Homo sapiens: one gene and its partners. The protein of the gene in region 2 purifies or fractionates together with the protein of the main gene of each other region. This does not show direct contact. Each region holds a gene or a part of one and is shown on either strand. Other genes may lie near its edges.

Region 1 (3,107 bases), on a different chromosome or scaffold from region 2:
GGAAAAAACCTACAGCAAAATATTAATTCTGGGTAATGAGTACATTGTAAGGTGCTATAGTTTCAATGTGTCCCCTCCAAAATTCAGATACGGAAACTTAACAGTCAATGTGATGGTATTAAGAGGCAAAAGCTTTAAAAGGTGATTAAGCCATGAATGGGATTAACCCATTTATGCCTACTAGTGTTCCATTATCAGAACACTAAGCTTGTAGGAGTTATTTATATCCTACTGCTCAAGGTCATCGCCAAGGTCTGATTTTTCACACACAAAAAAAATTTGCAACCTCTGGCATAAATGGGTTAAAGTCTTTATAGAAGAGGCTTCATGAAGTGAAGCTGTGGCACTGCTCCCATTCTGTCCTGTCTGCCATGTGAGGGCATGGGGTTCCTCCCCTCCAGAAGATGCAGCAACAAGATGCCATCTCAGAAGCAGAGAGGCGCCCTCATCAGTCAACCAAACCTACCAGCACCTTGATCTTCAACTTCCCAGCCTCCAGAATTCTGAGAAAATAAATTTCTGTTTTTTTTTTTTCAGACGGATTCGCTCTTGTCACCCAGGCTGGAGTGCAATGGCGAGATCTCGACTCACTGCAATCTCCGCCTCCCGGGTTCAAGCAATTCTCCTGCCTCAGCTTCCCAAGTAGCTGGGACTACAGGAACCCACCACCACGCCTGGCTAATTTTTGTATTTTTAGTAGAGATGGGGTTTCACCATGTTGGCCAGGCTAGTCCTGAACTCCTGACCTCAGGTGATCCACCCGCATCGGCCTCCCAAAGTGCTGGGATTACAGGCGTGAGCCACTGAGCCTGGCCCTCTGTTGTTTATAAGTTACCCAGTCTTAGGCATTTTTTATGGCACCATAAATGGACTGAGGGATTTTTTATACCATTTTCTCTCTTTCTCTGTATAACTTAAGTATTTCCTGTCTGTATTTAAAAAAAGGTAATTACTGGCTGGGCACAGTGGCTCACGCCTGTAATCCCAACACTTTAGGAGGCCAAGGTAGGTGGATTACCTGAGGTCAGGAGTTCGAGACCAGCCTGGCCAGCATGGTGAAACCCCATCTCTACAAAAATTACAAAAATTAGCTGGGCATGGTGGCGGGTGCCTGTAATCCCAGCTACTCGGGAAGCTGAGGCAGGAGAATCGCTTGAACCCGGGAGGCGGAGGTTGCAGTGAGCCGAAATTGCGCCATTGCACTCCAGCCTGGACAACAGAGTGAGACTCCATCTCAAAAAAAAAAAAAAAAAGTAATTACTATTTTTCACCTTTCTGTACTTGTGAAAATTTTGTAAGTAAACAGTTCAGGGAAAAGAAGACTCTTTTAGGAGGACCTTTTCCCCATCTGGGTGTGAGGTAGATGCTGGAAGTACCCATCCAAGCTGCTTATAGGTCAGAAGGTACTCTGCAAGGGCCAAAAAAAGAAAAAGCTGCCCTTCTGGATGGCAGTGTTCCAAAGCACCTCTTTTCTTCCCTCTCCTCATTTTTTTTTTCTCCTCATCCTGCCCTAACAGGGCCATTCAAAAAAAAAAAAAAGACCGAGCGAGCGAGAAAGCAAGGAAGCTTAATTTGGTTGACTTGTGTTTTATCTTCACATGAAGCACCTATAGCCATAGATTATTCATTGTTGAACCTGAGTGATGGGGGGCATATGGACATTCACTATGCCATTCTACTATCCTGTATGTGCGAAACTTTTCACGATTAAAAAAATGTTTTTCAAGTTGAATGACAGAAGAAGAAAAAAAATGTTTTAAGTGATCAACAAAATCATAGCATGTTTTCTTTCAGAACAATTCAGGAATATGAAGCAAGACCAATCCAGATACCCAACTGGCACTTTACATTTTGTAGTATGTTACTTTATGAAACAGTCTTCTCATAGTAAGTGGCTATCAGCTCAATTCTGTAGTTTTAGAATAAGGCAATGCTAAATATTACCTTCGACTCAACTCTGGTTTGAGTGCTCCAGAGCCTTCAGAAGGTGCTCCAGCGATCAGGTGGGCTGCAAATCTCTGCACTATGGGATGATAATGCCTCTGAAGGGAAAACGGGACAATCACATTCTGCACAGGTCAGTCCTTTACAAAAAACACTAGCCACAGCAAAGATTTTCTTAAATAAAATTACACCAAATTTTTTTTCATCACCTATGTACAGTATATGTAATTCATTAGAAGCACATACCCACAGAAAGAATATTATCTTTGCTAATAGGATTAAAACACAAATCAAGTTACCAGTGAAGTAGTTTAGTCTTGCTTTTACAATATAAATAGAAAAATCAAAAAGCAATTCCTCTTTCAGAGTGAAAAAAGTTAATTTACAACAGGTTACCTGCCACTTCTATTTTCTACAAGTCTCACTCTAATGCTGTCCATACTGTAGGATCACTGCATAGGTGAAACCATCTTGAAACAGGGCTTACTAAAGTCTCCTTGGATAAGACTCAACAGAAATGTACCTGATAACAAATCCTCTGAAGAGTGTTAGGGAAAGATTTCAATAAAGGGAAAGGTTTCAGTAAATCTTCCACAACTGCACCCTACAGAACTGACACTGTTTTCTGCTTCCTTAGAAAATGTACCTCAACAGCTTAAAGAATAGTAACAGCAAAGTAAAATGTAGCATACTAACACAGGAATTCTAAAAAAGGCAGCCCCAGAACAAAATATAATTAAGTACTCTGGCAATAACAACTATTTGAAGAAAAACTGGAAAACAATTATTCACAAACATCCCCAAAAAGAAAAAAACCAGGGCCACTCTTACCCGCAGAGCATGCAGTTCCCACAGAGCAGTGTTCTGAGCATTGCAGTACTCAGGCTCATCCAGTTCAGGAAGGAAAACTCCACTTCCCTGAGATTCACTGTCAAGCAGTAGATCTGTTTTGGGGAAAGTCTGCAAAAATGTCACATAAAAAGAATTGGTTAAATTAACATTGTTAATATAAGAGGTGTTACTGGTTTGTAGTTGTATTTGCATTTAAATTTATGGTTGTATAAGAGCTTTGCATAAAGTCTTTACACCTAGATTTAATAAAAAACAATTTAAGTTTATATAGTAAGAACAAGAGTTGCAAAAAAAAATTTTATCTTTGCTTG
Region 2 (3,500 bases):
ATTCTTTCCCACCATTTTTTCCTCTACAACCACCTCCAAGATTCTGTTTCAGGAAATCTGGATTTGTGCATAATACTTGATATTTATTAATCACCAGAAAATTTTGATCCATAATCCAATATGGAGATCAGCATCCACTGTATTGTTAAGTCTTTTCCTTAGGTGTTGATTTGTGAGGCTTATATTAGTCTTTCCACCATGGTAATCTTTGGACAATTTTTTCTCACTCATTCATTCTGTAAGTTAAAACAAGCATTTAACTAGATGCCATTTGAATGTGTTATGCTTTTCTACAATAAGTGGTATGCTTTGCTACAATAAAAGTTGAGAGTTATAGTTTCTGTTCTTATATCATTTCTGCCTATGAGAAAAAAACCTACTCAAAAATTCAACTTTATCAGAAAATATTCAGCATATAGCACCAATTTGTACAATACCTTTCCTGTGGTTCATCTATCAAGGCCTCTCCTAAATAATATAGAAACATTATAACTGTTCCATTTTTACTGTTTTACACAAGAAGTGAGATTCATCCCCAAACCCCAATCAAACCTTATTTAACATAAGATTACTTAGTTGGAACTTTAAAAAAAAGTAGATATGGACTCAGTGGTGAGTTATTCAAGATAAAAGATAATTCATAGAAAAACTACCTCCTATGACCCTCATACAAATATGTCTAGTAATAGACTTCGAAAATAAGGTAACTAGAATAAGCCATTTGCAATTAACCACTGAACAATGCTATATTCAAAAAATGCCTGATAATATGTGTTGGGGAAAGAAATTAATTTCTAGAAAAAGCAGAAGTTAAAATTTGCACAATTGTGGTACAAAAACACCCTTATATTTGAGTACACATAAGTATAACACATACTTTTGCTTTAACACAATTATAAGCTAACAGATATATTTTTCTGCTCCATCTTAAATATGCCATTGTGGGGTTTTTTCTTTTTGTTTTTGTTTTTTCTTTGGTTTTTGTTTTTAGAAACAAAGTCTTGCTCTGTTGCCCAGGCAGGAGAGCCATGGTGTGATCATAGCTCAATGTAGCCTCCAACTCCTGGGCTCAAGTGATCCTCCCACCTCAGCCTCCCAAAGTACTGGGATTACAGGCATGAATCACCATGCCCAGCCCTGATAAAAGTTTAAGAATAATACTTGTAGACCTATATCATGAGAGCTCACTGACTTGCTAGAGTAGCTACTGTGAAAAATTAACCGAAATGCATTCATATGTTTGCAATGAGTGATTTCAAATCATTGTTTAAGTTGGTAACTAAGTATTATAATCTACAGCAGCACAAATACATGTGTTGTTCATCTATGGGATGTGAATTTTTTTGTGTGTTCTTCCATGAAAGAAAGCAGACCTATGAAGGTAAAAATCTAAGCCACATGTTTCATATTTGTTTCATAAAAGACACATTAATGATTGTATTCAAGTTTCCAGGTAATATTTATTTAACACCTACTATGTGCCAGAGCTTGTGCTAGCACTCAGGTACCCTGTGCTAGTACTAAGGTGCCCTCCACAAGTGATTTTTGACCCAAGCTGCATATTAGACTCACATGGCAGCTTTTAACTAATACTAGAGTATAAAACCTGAGCTTTATCCTCTAAGCTGACTAAATGAGGTATTGTATTTTTAAAGTACTTCCTAGGTGATTCTGATGTGCAGCCAAGGTTGCAAATCATTAAATACATCTTATTCCTTAAAGTAATGGGGAAATCAGATAAGTAAATAAATAGGTAATTACAATAGAATGTAGAGAGAAGAAAGTACTTTCCTTTCCAATATATGTCCTTGCCAGTATGTCACATTAAGCACTCATTCCTTTTTTTTTTTTAATTATACTTTAAGTTCTAGGGTGCATGTGCACAATGTGCAGGTTTGTTACATAGGTATACGTGTGCCATGTTGGTTTGCTGCACTCATCAACTCGTCATTTACACTAGGCATTTCTCCCAGTGCTATCCTTCCCCCAGTCCCCCACCCCCCGACAGGACCCAGTGTGTGATGTCTCCTGCCCTGTGTCCAAGTGTTCTCGTTGTTCAATTTCCACCTATGAGTGGTACACGCGGTGTTTGGTTTTCTGTCCTTGTGATAGTTTGCTGAGAATGATGGTTTCCAGCTTCATCCATGTCCCTGCAAATGACATGAACTCATCATTTTTTATGGCTGCAATAGTATTCCATGGTGTATATGTGCCACATTTTCTTAATCTAGTCTACCATTGATGGACATTTGGGTTGGTTCCAAGTCTTTGCTATTGTGAATAGTGCCACAATAAATATACACGTGCATGTGTCTTTATAGTAGCTTGATTTATAATCCTTTGAGTATATACCCAGTAATGCAATCACTGGGTCAAATGGTATTTCTAGTTCTAGATCCTTGAAGAATCACCACACTGTCTTCCACAGTGGTTGAACTAGTTTACACTCCTACCAACAGTGTAAGTGTTCCAATTTCTCCACATCCTCTCCAGCATCTGTTGTTTCCTGACTTTTTAATGATTGCCATTCTAACTGGCAAGAGATGGTATCTCATTGTGGTTTTGATTTGCATTTCTCTGATGACCAGTGATGATAAGCATTTTTTCATGTGTCTGTTGGCTGCATAAATGTCTTCTTTTTAGAAGTGTCTGTTCATATCCTTTGCCCACTTTTTGATGGGGTTGTTTGTTTTTTTCTTGTAAATTTGTTTAAGTTCTTTGTAGATTCTGGATATTAGCCCTTTGTCATATGGGTAGATTGCAAAAATTTTCTCCCATTCTGTAGGTTGCCTGTTCACTCTGATGGTAGTTTCTTCTGCTGTGCAGAAGCTCTTTAGTTTAATTAGATCCCATTTGTCTATTTTGGCTTTTGTTGCCATTGCTTTTGGTGTTTTAGTCATGAGGTGTTTGCCCATGCCTATGTCCTGAATGGTATTGCCTAGGTTTTCTTCTAGGGTTTTTATGGTTTTAGGTCTAACATTTAAGTCTTTAATCCATCTTGAATTGATTTTTGTATAAGGTGTAAGGAAGGGATCCAGTTTCAGCTTTCTACATATGGCTAGCCAGTTTTCCCAGCTCCATTTATTAAATAGGGAATCCTTTCCCCATTGCTTGTTTTTGTCAGGTTTGTCAAAGATCAGATGGTTGTAGATGTGCGGTATTATTTCTGAGGGCTCTGTTCGGTTCCATTGGTCTATATCTCTGTTTTGGTACCAGTACCATGCTGTTTTGGTTACTGTAGCCTTGTAGTATGGTTTGAAGTCAGGTAGTGTGATGCCTCCAGCTTTGTTCTTTTTGCTTAGGATTGTCTTGGCTATGTGGGCTCTTTTTTGGTTCCATATGAACTTTAAAGTAGTTTTTTCCAATTCTGTGAAGAAAGTCATTGGTAGCTTGATGGGAATGGCATTGAATCTATAAATTACCTTGGGCAGTATGGCCATTTTCACGATATTGATTCTTCCTATCCATGAGCATGGAATGTTCTTCCATGTGTTTGTGTC
Region 3 (3,500 bases), on a different chromosome or scaffold from region 2:
TTTTATCTAATATAAAGAAATATCTGCTTATAAACTTCATCATTTCATATACCATTAAGAGAGAAAAACACCCAAGATATGAGACTAATAGGAAACCGGCATAAAGCTGAAGGTAAATGAAAAATAAGCCTTCCATATGGAAGGGCGAACAAGGAGACTTGTAGGTTTCATTCTTGACACTGAGTGGGAAACAAAAAAAATCCCCTGAGCACTGGTAACAAGCCACCACCAGTGTGGTCCAAAACCCTCAAACAGAGAACGCCAAGTGGTCACAGGCTGGCAGTATACCCAGGTGACCAGCACAAGCAAACATGAATTCTCTCTGGAAAAACACAGGAAATATGGCATTTGTAATCTGTATGAGAAAATTTAGGCATGAAGCTTTACACTCTCTTCCAAACACTAAAAACATTCTTAAAATTTCTCATGGCTCATTTTCCAGTAATATTTTCTACGACTCTGTAAATTATATTATGGCTTAAAGAAAAACGTGACAAATCTAAAGGCTCTCAAATACAGAAGCAAACAGTCAATCATGCTCTATTATCCAAATATATTAATAAAATCTATGCAATTGTTAAGAAATGGTCTCACTTTTTAGCCAAAAAGGAAGAAAGTTTAAGGTGACTCCCTTTCTCTAATTATAAACTTACTTTATTGCTGCCAACTTTTTGGATAGCGTTCCCTCTGCTGGAATCTTTCAAGAGAAAAAAAAAAGTATTAAAGACAGTATTTGAAGTATTACCTCAAATTAATATTTTAAGTGAAGTCTAAGTATCTAACTCCAGTACACTGTGATCAAAAACATTCTAGGGAAATAAACAAATCAGAAACAACTGTCCTAATTTTTTTTTTTTTTTCCTGTTGAGATGGAGTCTCACACTGTCACCCAGGCTGGAGTGCAGTGGCATGATGTCGGCTCATTGCAAGCTCCACCTGCTGGGTTCACAACATTCTCCTGCCTCAGCCTCCTGAGTAGCTGGGACTACAGGCGCCCGCCACCACGCCCGGCTAATTTTTTGTATTTTTAGTAGAGATGCGGTTTCATCAGGTTAGCCAGGATGGTCTCGATCTCCTGACCTCGTGATCCGCCCACCTTGGCCTCCCAAAGTGCTGGGATTACAAACATGAGCCACCACGGCTGGCCAATCATCTTAATGCTATATGAAACGAAGCTCGTGGCTTAGGATAAGTTTTTCCAATGAAACCATCATGCTCAGATTTAACAGGCAGGGACTCAAAAACCCAGACAGAAGTTAAGATACCGGGCTCTCAAATTGCATCAGATGACTCCTACAGGGAGGACTCCAGGAAGAGACACCGACGATGAAAGACACATGAAAAATGTAAGGAAAAGGCCGGGCGCGGTGGCTCACACCTGTAATCCCAGCACTTTGGGAGGCCAAGGCGGGCGGATCACGAGGTCAGGAGGTTGAGACCATCCTGGCTAACACGGTGAAACCCCATCTCTACTAGAAATACAAAAAAATTAGCCAGACGTGGTGGCGGGCGCCTGTAGTCCCAGCTACTCAGGAGGCTGAGGCAGGAGAATGGCGTGAACCCGGGAGGCGGAGCTTGCAGTGAGCCCAGATGGCACCACTGCACTCCAGCCTGGGCGACAGAACGAGACTCCGTCTCAAAAAAAAAAAAAAAAAAAGGAAAAATGTTAAGGAAAAAGAAATGTTTATAAATTAACATTTTATCGTGTATTCTAATAAATTTTTAAATATGTCTAACTGAACTGATGAATAATATAAAAAGACATATCACCTGTATCTCTAAGAGTTTATATATTAGCCAAAAAAATGCATGGTGTCCATCATGCAGGTAAGGGAATCCCCTTTATATTCAGGTTCACTTTATTTCCAGTCATATATAGCCTCCTTTAAGAGTGGATGGGGCAGGTAGGGAAAACTTTATGGAAGAGGCAGAAATACACGTCAACAACTACAGCTGTCGACAACATGCCAAATGCAACCAGGTACTGAGAAGATCAAGGTGAAAAGATACCAACCCTGCAAGTTCACAATCTAGAACATAAATGCCATGTAGGGTAGTTATTATAAATCTTTTCTGGAAAACCTATTTTCTTTCTCAGTAACCTGATAGTTTACATAGTAAAACTATGAAATTTTAACTATTTCTTCTGTTTGCAGTTTATCTTGCTAAAATTGCTAACATAGTCAAACTCTCAAACCTCAAAAAAACAGTACAAGACACAGAAATGGCTAAATGAATAATCAACATGTGAATGACATCATCAAAACACATTTATTGGGTGCCTTCTGTACAGCGTCTACGTCCCGTTATTTGTTTGGTTTTGTTTTATTTTGTTTGTTTTTGAGACAGAATCTCGCTTTGTCGCCCAGGCTGGAGTGCAGTGGCACAATCTCGGCTCACTGCAACTTCCGCCTCTCAGGTTCAAGCGATTCTCCCATCTCAGCCTCCCGAGTAGCTGGGATTACAGGCCCCCGCCACCATGCCCAGCTAGTTTTCGTATTTTTAGTAGAAACGTAGTTTTGCCATGTTGGCCAGGCTGGTCTCGAACTTCTGAACTCAAGTGATCTGCCTTGGCCTCCCAAAGTGCTGGGTTACAGGCATCAACCACTGCACCCGGCCTACATCCTGTCATTAAAGATATTAATACATAAGTACAACATAAGGCAATAAAGTACAGGAATAATGCAGAGGAAAAAATATCACTTAATGATATAAAGTATCGGAAAAGCTTTGAAGAAGGGACATTTTTAGCCACATACTGAAAAATACTTTCATAGGCAAAAATGGTACTTTAAGGAAGGATTCCAGGCAAAACAAATGGACTGGCAAAGGGACAAAGGTGAGAAAACCCACGTGTAGAGGAACACAGGAGAGGCAGGGCCACACTGGAGAACTGCCAAGCTAAGAATTAAGGATGTATTTCACTGACAGAATAATTAACACAATGTACAGGTGCTGGTAACCCAAGAAGAAGTAAGACAGAGTATTTGTAACCACAGCTTACAGTCTGGTGGAGGAGGCAAACGACAATTTCAGTAGAGTGTACTAAGTACTGTAATGAGGGATGGGTGCTGTCAAATGCATAGCAGGGACACACTGGTAGCCTAGAGACTGGGGAGAATCAAGGTAGGCTCCCCAAAGGGGAGAAGGCAATAGCAGGCCCCGTGAGGGGTGTGTGTGTGGCGGCTGGGGGGATGGGGGGAAGGGCGTTTCATTAATGCAAGGCAGGGAAAGAGGTAAGGGTTCCGGGAAGAAGAGCTTCAGGAAGACTGAGTTCACAGTGTTTTGTTGGACAAATTAGAGGAAGACTGAAGGTAAGGAACTACAATAGGCCTCTGCGACTATTCTGACAGGAGGTAATGAGAACTTAGGTAGGACAAGGAAAAAAGAAAGGAATGACTCATATTAGGAAGAAATCACAGTTGAAAAACGGACAGGAGTGGCAAACACTAGCATGGGTGAGCCAATGAAGAGTCAAAGGCAACCACAAAACCTGCAGC
Region 4 (3,500 bases), on a different chromosome or scaffold from region 2:
CCTGAAAATGGTGAGGCAAACCAGAGACTGGCCATTCTATTAAACTAATTCTTTTAAAAATGGGACAGGCAGCCGACTGCAGTGGCTCACACCTGTAATCCCTGCACTTTGGGAAGCTGAGGTGGGTGGATCACCTGAGGTAAGGAGTTTGACCAGCCTGGCCAACATGATGAAACCCCATCTCTACTAAAAATACAAAAAATTAGCTGGGAGTGATGGCACGCACTTGTAATCCCAGCTACTCAGGAGGTTGAGGCAGGAGAATCGCTTGAACCTGGGAGGCAGAGATTGTAGTGAGCCAAGATCGCACCACTGCACTCCAGCCTGGGCAACAAGAGCAAAACTCCGTCTCAAAAAAAAAAAAAAAAAGAAAAAGAAACAGGCATGACAACAAATCAGAGTTACCACCAAGTGTATCACACACTCTTGCCCTCACTAACAGGAATATGAAACACAACGAAACATAATGGAAAGGTTTCCATGCAGGATAGCAGGAGGAAGCTCGCCAACTATTCAGAGAGCCAGCAGCAGCTGTCCATTCTCCAGGAAAAGGTTATGGACATGCTGAAATGTGTGTCTACACATGTATTTTAAAACAAGAAACAAAAGAGACACAAAAATCACTTAAATTTGGTTGATAAAAAACTTGTGGGGAGGTCCCTTAATTTGGACTTTAATATTCCTATTAATTTTTACTAGTAAAAGTAAAAAATCATTATGAAAATGCACAGAAGCACAAATACTCAAAACAAGGAAGCTCATCTCCTCGCACCTATTTTACTTCTTTATTTTCCAGGAGTCATTCCCTGTAACAAACATTGAAAACATTTTTTCAGTATCCCACTCTATCCAACTGAACATTTACTCTTGTCTTTTTGGTTGACCCTAATTCTTACTACTAAGAAACGACATGGTCACATGCTATATTTTGGCCAAATTCTTTTCAGGGAAGCACAGAAAACAGCGGCGCTCATGCAGCCCACCTTCTGGATGAGACGTCTCTTGCGGTTCAGAGCCAAGGGCAGAACTGGATGGAAAGCCAGTCTTTCCATTTAACAGGTGGAGAGAATGAGTAGCTAAGTGAGACGACAACCCTTTATGGTCGATAACCTGGCACTGTGTTCCAACGCCAAGACACAAATTTGCTCTGCCTTGCACACACAGGTTTCGTCCGGTTATACCCACGTAATGCCTAAGAAATCAAGAGGAGCCTGAAGTTCTTACCTGGTCATACTAGACATTTTTAAGACCGTATTTATTGTGGAAATCTAAAAGAGGAGATGAAAAAGCTTTAATTAATATTTTGATACAAAATATTTAACGGAAATTACACAAGAAAGGAGAAACTATTGAGAGAACATTGACTACTATGATCAAATTAAGTTCCTCCACCCAGGTGGTGCTCTCTACTTGGGGCGATTCTGCCACCCGCCCTAACTCCCTGGGGACACAGGGCAAAGTCTGGAAAAATTTGTGCTTGTTATAACCAGGGGAGGGGGGCACTGCTGGCATCTAGTGGGTAGAGGCCTGGGATGCTGCTGAACATCCTACAGTGCACAGGACAGTCCCCAAAACTAAGACTGACCTAGTCCAAAATGTCCACAGCACCAAGGCTGAGAAACCCTGATCCACCCCCCAGGTGAGAAAACAAGTTTAGGTAACCCACCCTACAGAAGGGGTAGTAAGCTGTAACCGAAAGTGCAGAGGAAACCAAGCCTGCCTAAAAGTTAATATATTTTTTTCTTCTTACTCATGAGTCTGGAGAACTCACTTTTTTTCCTTTAAAGTGTCCATTTGTTTGTAGAACACACACCAAAATACTCTTCTTCCCTTACTTCTCTAAAACTGTGGACGTCCTTTAACAGCAAGATGCCAGCACAGTTCCCTCTCCTATGGCCACTGTGACATCTGCCACCACAAATGGCTTCACCACTACAACTATCCAGTAAATAGGGAGCTGTTTTAAGTTTAGCAAGTGATGTCCTGACCCTAAATCACGTTAGTCGAGGAAAGTCTTCAATACTTAAAAAAACACACACACAAAAACACAAAAAAACAGAGGATGGGGGAAGGGGGGGCCAGAAAACAGTGAACAGTAACCTAAGCACCCTTGAACTGTCCTAGAAGAGTATCATATCAATCTGAGTTCATTCAGGTAACTTAGAGCAGAAACAAACACTCTCTGATCTCTCCTCCTAGAGCGGCCATTTCACAGACCTTCTGAACGGACAAACACACCAAAAAAAACTGACCCAGAAAACACTGAAAGGTACTTACTAAATGTGGGTGGAGGCCCAGCTCATGAAAAGCAGCTGAAGTAAACACTTTTTCTTGCACCTGCTTTACCACAGGTCTGCAAATGATGAACAAGAACCCAGGCATCAGTGCCAATATTAACAAAGAAAAGGCAGAACACATTTTTTTCTTCCTGAAGGGCATCCGCCCCTGGACATACCTGTGGAGTTCTGGAATGTCAGGGTTGTTTTTAAACAGTGATGAAGTCTTAATGCACTGTCTCTCCTCCTGGTTTCTATCACTTGTGCTAACCGAATGCTTCTTTGGAGAAAACATTTTTTGTGCGTTCCCCTTAAAAGTCCTCTGAGTTTCTTTAACACTAGTTTTCTTGGCTGGGAGAAATGAAGTTTCGTTCCTCCGTTTCGCTGGGGGAGCCTCACTGGACGCTTGGTATTTTCTTTTCGTAGCCTTTGCTTGCTGCGTTGTTCCCAGAAGGAAAGATCAACAAGAGATGCATTAGTCCATGAAAACAGAGCTCGGAGTGAAGCCTGACTGCCCACAGAATTGCATCTCTCCCTGCAGAGATCATTATGCCCCATATGTCAAGCAACAGTTTAGGGTTTGCAATCAGACTCTTTGACTCAGCTTCTTCCAAAAGGTAAAGAAAAGAAAAAAGAAAAAAGTCTCAGCTCACTCATCTACCAGACCTCACCAGCCATTCTTAACTGTTAAATCAATCAAGATAAGGTAAGGATGAAGAAGCAGCATTTTTCCAGTTGAATGTTAACTAATGGAGTCTGTTTTAAGGGAAGCAAGAATCCACCTTGTGAAGGGTGTGTCAATCCATATTCCTAGGAACCCATTCACCCAAGGAGAAAAGAGGGGTGGGGGAAAACGAATCTTTTCTCTCCACCAACAAAGCACACTGGAGACCGCACAGGAGAGAGGGGCGAGGGGGAATGCGCATCTCAGCCCGTGCCCAGGAAGCGGAAACATTCATTACCATTCTACCCTAGCGCCTGGATCTCTCTCATTCTCTCCTCTCAAGCTGCTCCTCCAGATTCAGACGGCCTGGAGAAAATTCCTACGCCCTGTTCCCATTCCAAATGAGAATGCTGCTCCATCCATCACCTCTACCACAATTACTTCCTACCTCCCTTGCCTTTCGAGTCTCTGAGTCCCCGAGTCTCTGCCTGATTGCGGATTACAGGCTACACAGCACTAGGGATCTCTTGCCTGTTGCTTCTTATTTCCATTACAGGAAT
Region 5 (3,500 bases), on a different chromosome or scaffold from region 2:
AACATGAAAGAAAAAGGACTCCAGTGGCAAGCATATACTTCAAGCCAAAGTATATGCTTGAAGAATTTGATCATTTAAATTATGTGAACTAATTATTGCAATAATGACGAGGACTTCTTTGTGGCCTTCCCATAAAGAGAATTTTATTTATTTATTTATTTTTTTTTTGAGACGGAGTCTCGCTCTGTCTCCCAGGCTAGAGTGCTGTGGCGCAATCTTGGCTCACTGCAACTTCCACCTCCCCAGGTTCAAGCGATTCTCCTGCCTCAGCCTCCCTAGTAGCTGGGACTACAGGTGCGTGCCGCCATGCCCAGCTGATTTTTTGTATTTTTAGTAGTGACAGGGTTTCATTGTGTTAGCCAGGATGGTCTCGATCTCCTGACCTCGTGATCCACCCGCCTCAGCCTCCCAAAATTCTGGGATTACAGGCGTGAGCCACCGCGCCCAGCTATAAAGAGAATTTTAAAATGCCACTTCTTTCTTAAAACCAAATCACATAAGTACAATTCTAACACTTATACTAAGCGAGTGATTTCCATCCTCCTTTGGAATTCTCTGCTTCTAGAATTGTTTCCCATATGCTTAGGATGACAAAGTATTATGGATAGAACTTCACTATAACAATGGTATCTGGGGATAAAGATAATAACTACATTTAGGTTTTCCACAATAAAATGTATTTTTCATCATGATATATCTTTTACTGCCCCTCAACCCAACAATTTGACCTAAATGGCTGCATGGGCAAGAATTTACTATTAGTTAGTCATGTTTATTTACACTTTGTCTTATTCTAAAAAAGATGAAAAGCTAAGAATCATTCAGGGGTTTTACGGTAGTAAGACTTATAAATTTACATTATTTTCTCTTCTCAAGAATAACTGCTCAAGAGTTATGGCTTAATAAAGTTCAGTCACTCAACAGATATTGAATATGTATTATGTATAAGACTGTTTCCAACTCATTAAACTACTGTGTTTCTGTGTAAAACATAGAGTTTACAAAATTTAAAATAAGTGAAGTCTAATTTCTATGTACAAAATACTGTGTACAAAATGGGATAGAGAGAAGATTAAACAAACATACAACTTGTGAAGTGACACTGTTTCTTCATAAACTTCTGGTTGAGTTTTCTAATACTTTACATCTGAACCCTCTGGCATATATTCTGAAAACTGATGTTATTAGTGATTTAGTGGCTTCAGCTGGCTGTTAAACATGGATTAAGATGGACCACCAAGTGGCTTATCCCAGTGCTGGACAAGATAACCTATCTTCAACTTACCAGCACCCGTTTACTTTTTTAAATATTTGGATTCCCGTGTTTCTTAACTGCCTTAGGCCAGGGTGCCCAAATTGCTTATAGCATTCATCTAAGGATTTAGAGAAAAAATCCAGGCTCAGCCAGAAAAGAGTATATTGACTGGTTATTGATGTCTGCCCTGATGCACCAAGGATGCATGTATTTTCTACTCCTCTTTTTTTTTTTTTTCTTTTTTTTGGAGACAGTTTCCCTCTGTTGCCCAGGCTGGAATACAATGGCGTGATCTCAGCTCACTGCAACCTCTGCCTCCTGGGCTCAAGCAATTCTTGTGCCTCAGCCTCCTGAGTAGCAGGGATTACAGGCATGCACCACCATGCCCAGATAATGTTTATAATTTTAGTAGAGATGGGGTTTCACCATGATGGCCAGGCTGGTCTCGAACTCCTGACCTCAGGTGATCTGCCCTCCTTGGCCTCCCAAAGTGCTGGGATTACAGGTGTGAGCCACTGTGCCCGGCCCTCTATTCCTAATACATGCTGGTCAGCAAATAATTGATTCTAACAGCCACAACAGAGGCAGCACAGTGTGCTTATCCCTGAAAAACCTGAGATAAAAGGCAAGAGAGAAAGGAAAAAAGGGAAAAGATAAGGAAAAAAACCAAAAAGATCATGAGAAGAAAAATAAAGACGGGAAAAGGAGAAGAGGTGGTTATACATGCCATAAAGGAGCATTAGTACTCCATGTTGATGGGTCTATGTTTCTTTCCATTTGTTATGCTCCCACCACTGACTGGCCAATCTTCTCTCTACCAATACCTGTTATAGATCAACAGATCACCATTTGCTTCTCTGAAGGCCTCCAGATGATTTCTGGATGAACCTTCCACTGTCTATTCTAAAGGCCCACGTTTTCCATTCTCCCACACTGCACTGATCCCCATGACACTTTATGTCCAGAATGCTACTCTCTGGCCATTCCTGTCATCCCCAAACATTTTTGTTTTTAATTCCAACATAACATTTTCACCTTCCAAAAACCTTTATAGAGAAGATGAAACCTTACTTTGCCCTCATGGTCTGGCAATGACATACCAATAGCTACTGATTCTCTCTAAATGTTTCCCCAAAACACTTAGCCATGAAAAAAAAAAAAAAACAATTAAGTTCAAAGGAATTTATGGGACACTCCAAATTGCAGTATAACTTTTGATGTTTTAAGCTGTGTCACCATTTTACTTTACCTGGCTTTTCTTCCTCCCCTTCAGCAAGCTTGCTTTTGGGAGGAGTTTCCCGGGTAGAATTCACAGTTCGACGAATCGGCATGGTGCTATCTTCTACCTTCTAAGAAAAGAGATGGCCATAATCAAACATGCATTAAAAAATTCTCTTTTCTCTCTTTCTCAAAGGGCCTAACTGGGTGTCAGATGTAGGAGAATTCTTCAAGTCGACTCCAGGATCTGATGCAAATTACTTTTAACAAGTTTTTTTTGAAGTGAAATATGATTTTTAAGATACACTTTTTAAAGTATGTTATTTTAGCTTGAATTTCAAATGGAAACACATAATTATAGTTGATTTGCTATAAATTTAGAAGGTTGGAGGTTTTCTCAGGAATTTGAGGGGAAAGGGAAGATGAAAAGAATCTGATTTTGTTTCAAATTCACAACCTAGACTCCCCAAAGTAAGGGAAGGAACATGTACCAAGAAGGACCCAGCAGGGCCTGAAGTCAGGGATTGATCCAAGAGTGAGCTTCAAGAATGTGTCAGCCCCTACCTCACCTAACTTGTCCGCGTGGATCAGCTGAGCTCCTACTATAAGTGGGAGTGCCTTAGGATGGACGAGTTCACCTTGAGACGTATCAGTCGCCATTTTAAATAATTTCTAGGCCCGAGTACAGGTTACACTCTGAAGCCTCTGCTGTTAACCACAAGGATTTTTCCTAATGGTTTCAGTGTGGTGAAGAATCAACCTAAAGCACAGAAAAGACCTGGTGTGAAGATTAACAGAAACAAAACTAAACTAAAACGTCTAAATTTAATACACATCCAAAGGGAAAAAATATAACTATAAAATTTATAGGTAAGTGACAGATGATTTGGTTACTCAGAAAGATAAAACTACCAAAATATAGACTACATAAAGCAGCAACTAAGACGAATGCATAAGCCACGGCAGCTGTTGCACCTTCCACATGAACAAAGACAACAAGGGCAAGGAAGCTCCTAAGGAACCTAAC
Region 6 (3,500 bases), on a different chromosome or scaffold from region 2:
GGATGTTAAAAAACAAACTAGGCTGGGCTCAGTGACTCACGCCTGTAATCCCAGCACTTTGGGAGGCTGAGGCAGGTGGATCACTTGAAGTCAGGAGTTCGAGACCAGCCTGGCCAACATGGTGAAACCCTGTCTCTACTAAAAAAATACAAAAATTAGCCGGGTATGGTGGTGTGCACCTGTAGTCCCAGCTACTCAGGAGGCTGAGGCAAGAGAATCACTTGAACCCAGAAGGTGGAGGTTGCAGTGAACTGAGATTGTGCCACTGCACTCCAAACTGAGCGACACAGCAAGACTCCATCTCAAACAGAAAAACAAACAAAACTGGTAGCTTCAGAATCACCTCTGAAACAATGGCTAACAGTAATAAACAATTCTATTATCTGGGGAACAAAGTTGCCTTGAACAATAACCAGATCCCAGATTTTCCAACCTAGGGCCACTGCATTAACCACCAGAATGGCTCGTCTGTTGGTAATCCTCTTGGTATATACCACAAAGACTACAAATGTTTGCTGTATATGCAAGGGAACTTTGCTGTGCAATATCAATGAGAGCTCTAAGAATGACAGAGTCAAGAATAATCTGGCCCTGTATGTCCTGGGGGAAGATGGGTAAGAGAATGAGTACTGACTGCGTGCTGACCATGCAGTATGCTAGACGATGGACATGTATTATCTCATTTAGTCCTCAGCAATCATGTGAGGCAGATGTTGTCCACCCCATTTTACAAACTGAAGTTCAGAGCGGTAATAACTGCCAAGGAACATGCAGCAAAAAGGGCAGAGCCAGAGTATGAGCATGAGTACACGTATTCCTAAAGTCCCTGCTCCACCTTCTATACCACACCAGATTAAAAACAGTACTAAAACTATCAGGCTTCACACTTCTGGAGCCAACTAATAAAAGAAAATATGGAAGAGATAACTGAAATCTACAGGTAATGGGAAACCTTAACCTCAACCATTAATTTTGGCACGTACTATCACCAAACACTGTAAAAAACGGCTGACTGGAAATAACATTGGTCTGCTTCCTCTCTCCTTCCTTTCCCTTCTGCTGTAGAGCTATCAGACATGGGCCAGCAGATAAGAAGATGGCCTGGAGAGGCTTAGGGAACTGGGAGTAAAGGGAACTAGGAGCAAAAAAACCTAACTGAGGGGAGAACTACTCTAAGAGAGCAGAAGCACAAATTGAACAAAATAGAAGAGTTTATGTCCTTAAAAATATGGACCATTTAATTTCTGTACCAAGCTGCGCTGGATCCTTAATTCCTTCATTTTAAGTTTTCTTCGATCTTCTAAAGAGAACTCCACTATTGGTCTCTGTCAGAGGGAGACAGAATGCCATTCATTAGACTTCTTAATCTGTGCATGCAATGAGCTGAGTTTTTCCCCTTCACACATCCTCCCCCAACCCACCTTTTTTTTGTCCACTTGCCACTGTTTCCCACCCCTCAAATGTCAGAGGACACTAGGCATAAAGGAGAAGGCTGGTTTCCTGCAAGTGGTCCTAAGGGAACAAGTCTCCCCAGAGGACAAGGCCTACCTTCAGAGGCCCAAAGATTTCTGGATTGTTGTTGATGAGGCGGAGGGCTTTCAGGGCATGCTCGTGCTCTTGGAACTCCGCAAAGGCGTAGCCCAGGGACTGACCCTTCATGTTCCCATGAACTCCTTTGAGGTCTCGCATCACTCTACACTATGAGTAGAGCAAGAAAAAAATCAGTAATTACAGAATGAGAAGACTTGCCTGACATGAACTGCTTTAATAGAGTCAATAAGAAATCAGGCTATTGGGTGGGCATGGTGGTTCATGCCTGTAATCCTAGCACCTTGGGAGGCCGAGACAGGAGGATTGCTTGAGGCCAGGAGTTTGAGACCAGCCTAGGCAACATGGCAAAACCTTGTCTCTACAAAAAATACAAAAAATTAGCCAGTGTGGTGGCACCTCAGCTACTCAAGAGGCTGAAGCAGGAGGATCACCTGAGCCCGGGGAGGTTGAAGTTACAGTGAGCCATGATGGCACCACTGCACTCCAGCCTGGGCAACAGAGTGAGACCCTGTCTCAAAAAAAAAAAAAAAAAATCAGGTTATTGAAACATAATCTTCATTTATACCACCATCACAAAAATCACACTGGAATAACACTTATGTGTGTCCATCTTATTAGAATTTACCTACTAAGACCATCAAACAGATTAAAATTGTATTTTCTTGCTTTCTACTAGCTTATAGACATCAACAGAGACCTAAAAAAAAGCACATAAACAAAACTTCCTAAAGAAAATTTATAAAGCGGTATGGATGTTAAAAAACAAACACAATACAAACACAACTGTTTGCGATACATACAAATTGAGAGGTACATGGTATTTTAAGCGTGTAACAAGTTGCTGCCGAGGATGGAGTACTGTCCACAGATCTTACAACTGAAAAAAGCCCTCAGGAAGGAAATTATTGAAGAAGGAAAGGAGGAAGGCCTGATGGCTTTAGATAAGAAAGACATTTCAAGCATAGGAAAAAGTCTCTCCAACATACAGGGTCAGAAATATAGGAAGAAGTTTCAGCTCTCTTTGCTTGCAGCTCAGATCCTCTCTAGTGTGGTTTTCCCTTAAATCCTTAAGCCAGATGTAGTAAACATCTGGGGCACCAAAGTATGGTAGGATTTTTCGAGAAAACTGATCATTTACATGCCATTACTACCAAAGCTGTCGTTCTCATGTAATGGAAACAGCTAAGTATTGGGGATGCATGGATGCCGCATTTAGTTTATGTCCAGTGTCCACTCTGTGCCTAGAACTGTCATACACTGTAAGGGAATCAAGAGAAGCATATAATGAAGATCCTGTTCTCAAGATGCTTACCATCTTACTGAGACACTATACATACAAATAGGAAAGAATTAAGAGGAAAATTCAACATAATGCAAAATATTCTAGAATAAACATAAATTTCTCTAAATTATGACAGGTGTTAAATATGTAGGCACTAAGTATTCGGATGATAGGAGAAATTACACAACTGTCCCTCCCCTATAACCAGTAACACTGAGCAGTTTTACTAACTGTGGTGTCAGATATGTGCTGATATATTCACATTCTCTCAAGTAATCTCCCAAATACCAATCCATACATTTTGAAGAGGTTTTCAGGGATTAGGAAAACAGTTTATGGTAGCGAAACAGAGTAAAGCAGGCCCAAAATATTGGCAATGGTACTTTTAAAATAAATATTGACTAAGAGATGACTATGTACCAGGTACTACACCAAGGATTGGGGATAATGAGATAACGCTTGCCTCAAAAACTCAGTCTAGTGGGGAGAAGTGACTGACAGACAGTTTGAGGCCAGGGTAATAGTAACCAGTATGACAGAGATATGCAAGGCCAGGCCCAGTGGTTCACTGTTATAATTCCAGCACTGTGGGAGGCCGAAGCAGGGGAATCATCTGAGCTCAGGAATTTGCGACCAGCCTGGGCAACATGACAAAACCCTGTCTCTA

Evidence for each region.
Region 1: the proteins of PTPRB (region 2) and NOC3L purify together in Homo sapiens (affinity purification with mass spectrometry; one large-scale study listed by BioGRID and IntAct). This does not show direct contact.
Region 3: the proteins of PTPRB (region 2) and RBM34 purify together in Homo sapiens (affinity purification with mass spectrometry; one large-scale study listed by BioGRID and IntAct). This does not show direct contact.
Region 4: the proteins of PTPRB (region 2) and DDX31 purify together in Homo sapiens (affinity purification with mass spectrometry; one large-scale study listed by BioGRID and IntAct). This does not show direct contact.
Region 5: the proteins of PTPRB (region 2) and HP1BP3 purify together in Homo sapiens (affinity purification with mass spectrometry; one large-scale study listed by BioGRID and IntAct). This does not show direct contact.
Region 6: the proteins of PTPRB (region 2) and RBM28 purify together in Homo sapiens (affinity purification with mass spectrometry; one large-scale study listed by BioGRID and IntAct). This does not show direct contact.

What each region holds. Positions count from the first base shown.
Region 1 is NC_000010.11:94,335,833-94,338,939, forward strand, and holds part of NOC3L (nucleolar complex protein 3 homolog), read right to left. Parts: intron 2,905-3,107; coding exon 2,776-2,904; intron 2,043-2,775; coding exon 1,945-2,042; intron 1-1,944. UniProt on the Homo sapiens protein: May be required for adipogenesis.
Region 2 is NC_000012.12:70,630,930-70,634,429, reverse strand, and holds part of PTPRB (receptor-type tyrosine-protein phosphatase beta), read left to right. Parts: intron 1-3,500. UniProt on the Homo sapiens protein: Plays an important role in blood vessel remodeling and angiogenesis. Not necessary for the initial formation of blood vessels, but is essential for their maintenance and remodeling. Can induce dephosphorylation of TEK/TIE2, CDH5/VE-cadherin and KDR/VEGFR-2.
Region 3 is NC_000001.11:235,147,751-235,151,250, forward strand, and holds part of RBM34 (RNA-binding protein 34), read right to left. Parts: intron 698-3,500; coding exon 654-697; intron 1-653.
Region 4 is NC_000009.12:132,659,984-132,663,483, forward strand, and holds part of DDX31 (ATP-dependent DNA helicase DDX31), read right to left. Parts: intron 3,435-3,500; exon of another isoform or gene 3,389-3,434; intron 3,344-3,388; exon of another isoform or gene 3,242-3,343; coding exon of another isoform or gene 3,239-3,241; intron 2,713-3,238; coding exon 2,456-2,712; intron 2,354-2,455; coding exon 2,278-2,353; intron 1,269-2,277; coding exon 1,225-1,268; intron 1,218-1,224; exon of another isoform or gene 984-1,217; intron 1-983. UniProt on the Homo sapiens protein: May have DNA helicase activity and RNA helicase activity. Probably have ssDNA and RNA dependent ATPase activity. Plays a role in ribosome biogenesis and TP53/p53 regulation through its interaction with NPM1.
Region 5 is NC_000001.11:20,777,308-20,780,807, forward strand, and holds part of HP1BP3 (heterochromatin protein 1-binding protein 3), read right to left. Parts: intron 3,234-3,500; 5' UTR 3,134-3,233; coding exon 3,038-3,133; intron 2,605-3,037; coding exon 2,505-2,604; intron 1-2,504. UniProt on the Homo sapiens protein: Component of heterochromatin that maintains heterochromatin integrity during G1/S progression and regulates the duration of G1 phase to critically influence cell proliferative capacity.
Region 6 is NC_000007.14:128,316,409-128,319,908, forward strand, and holds part of RBM28 (RNA-binding protein 28), read right to left. Parts: intron 1,699-3,500; coding exon 1,549-1,698; intron 1,326-1,548; coding exon 1,251-1,325; intron 1-1,250. UniProt on the Homo sapiens protein: Nucleolar component of the spliceosomal ribonucleoprotein complexes.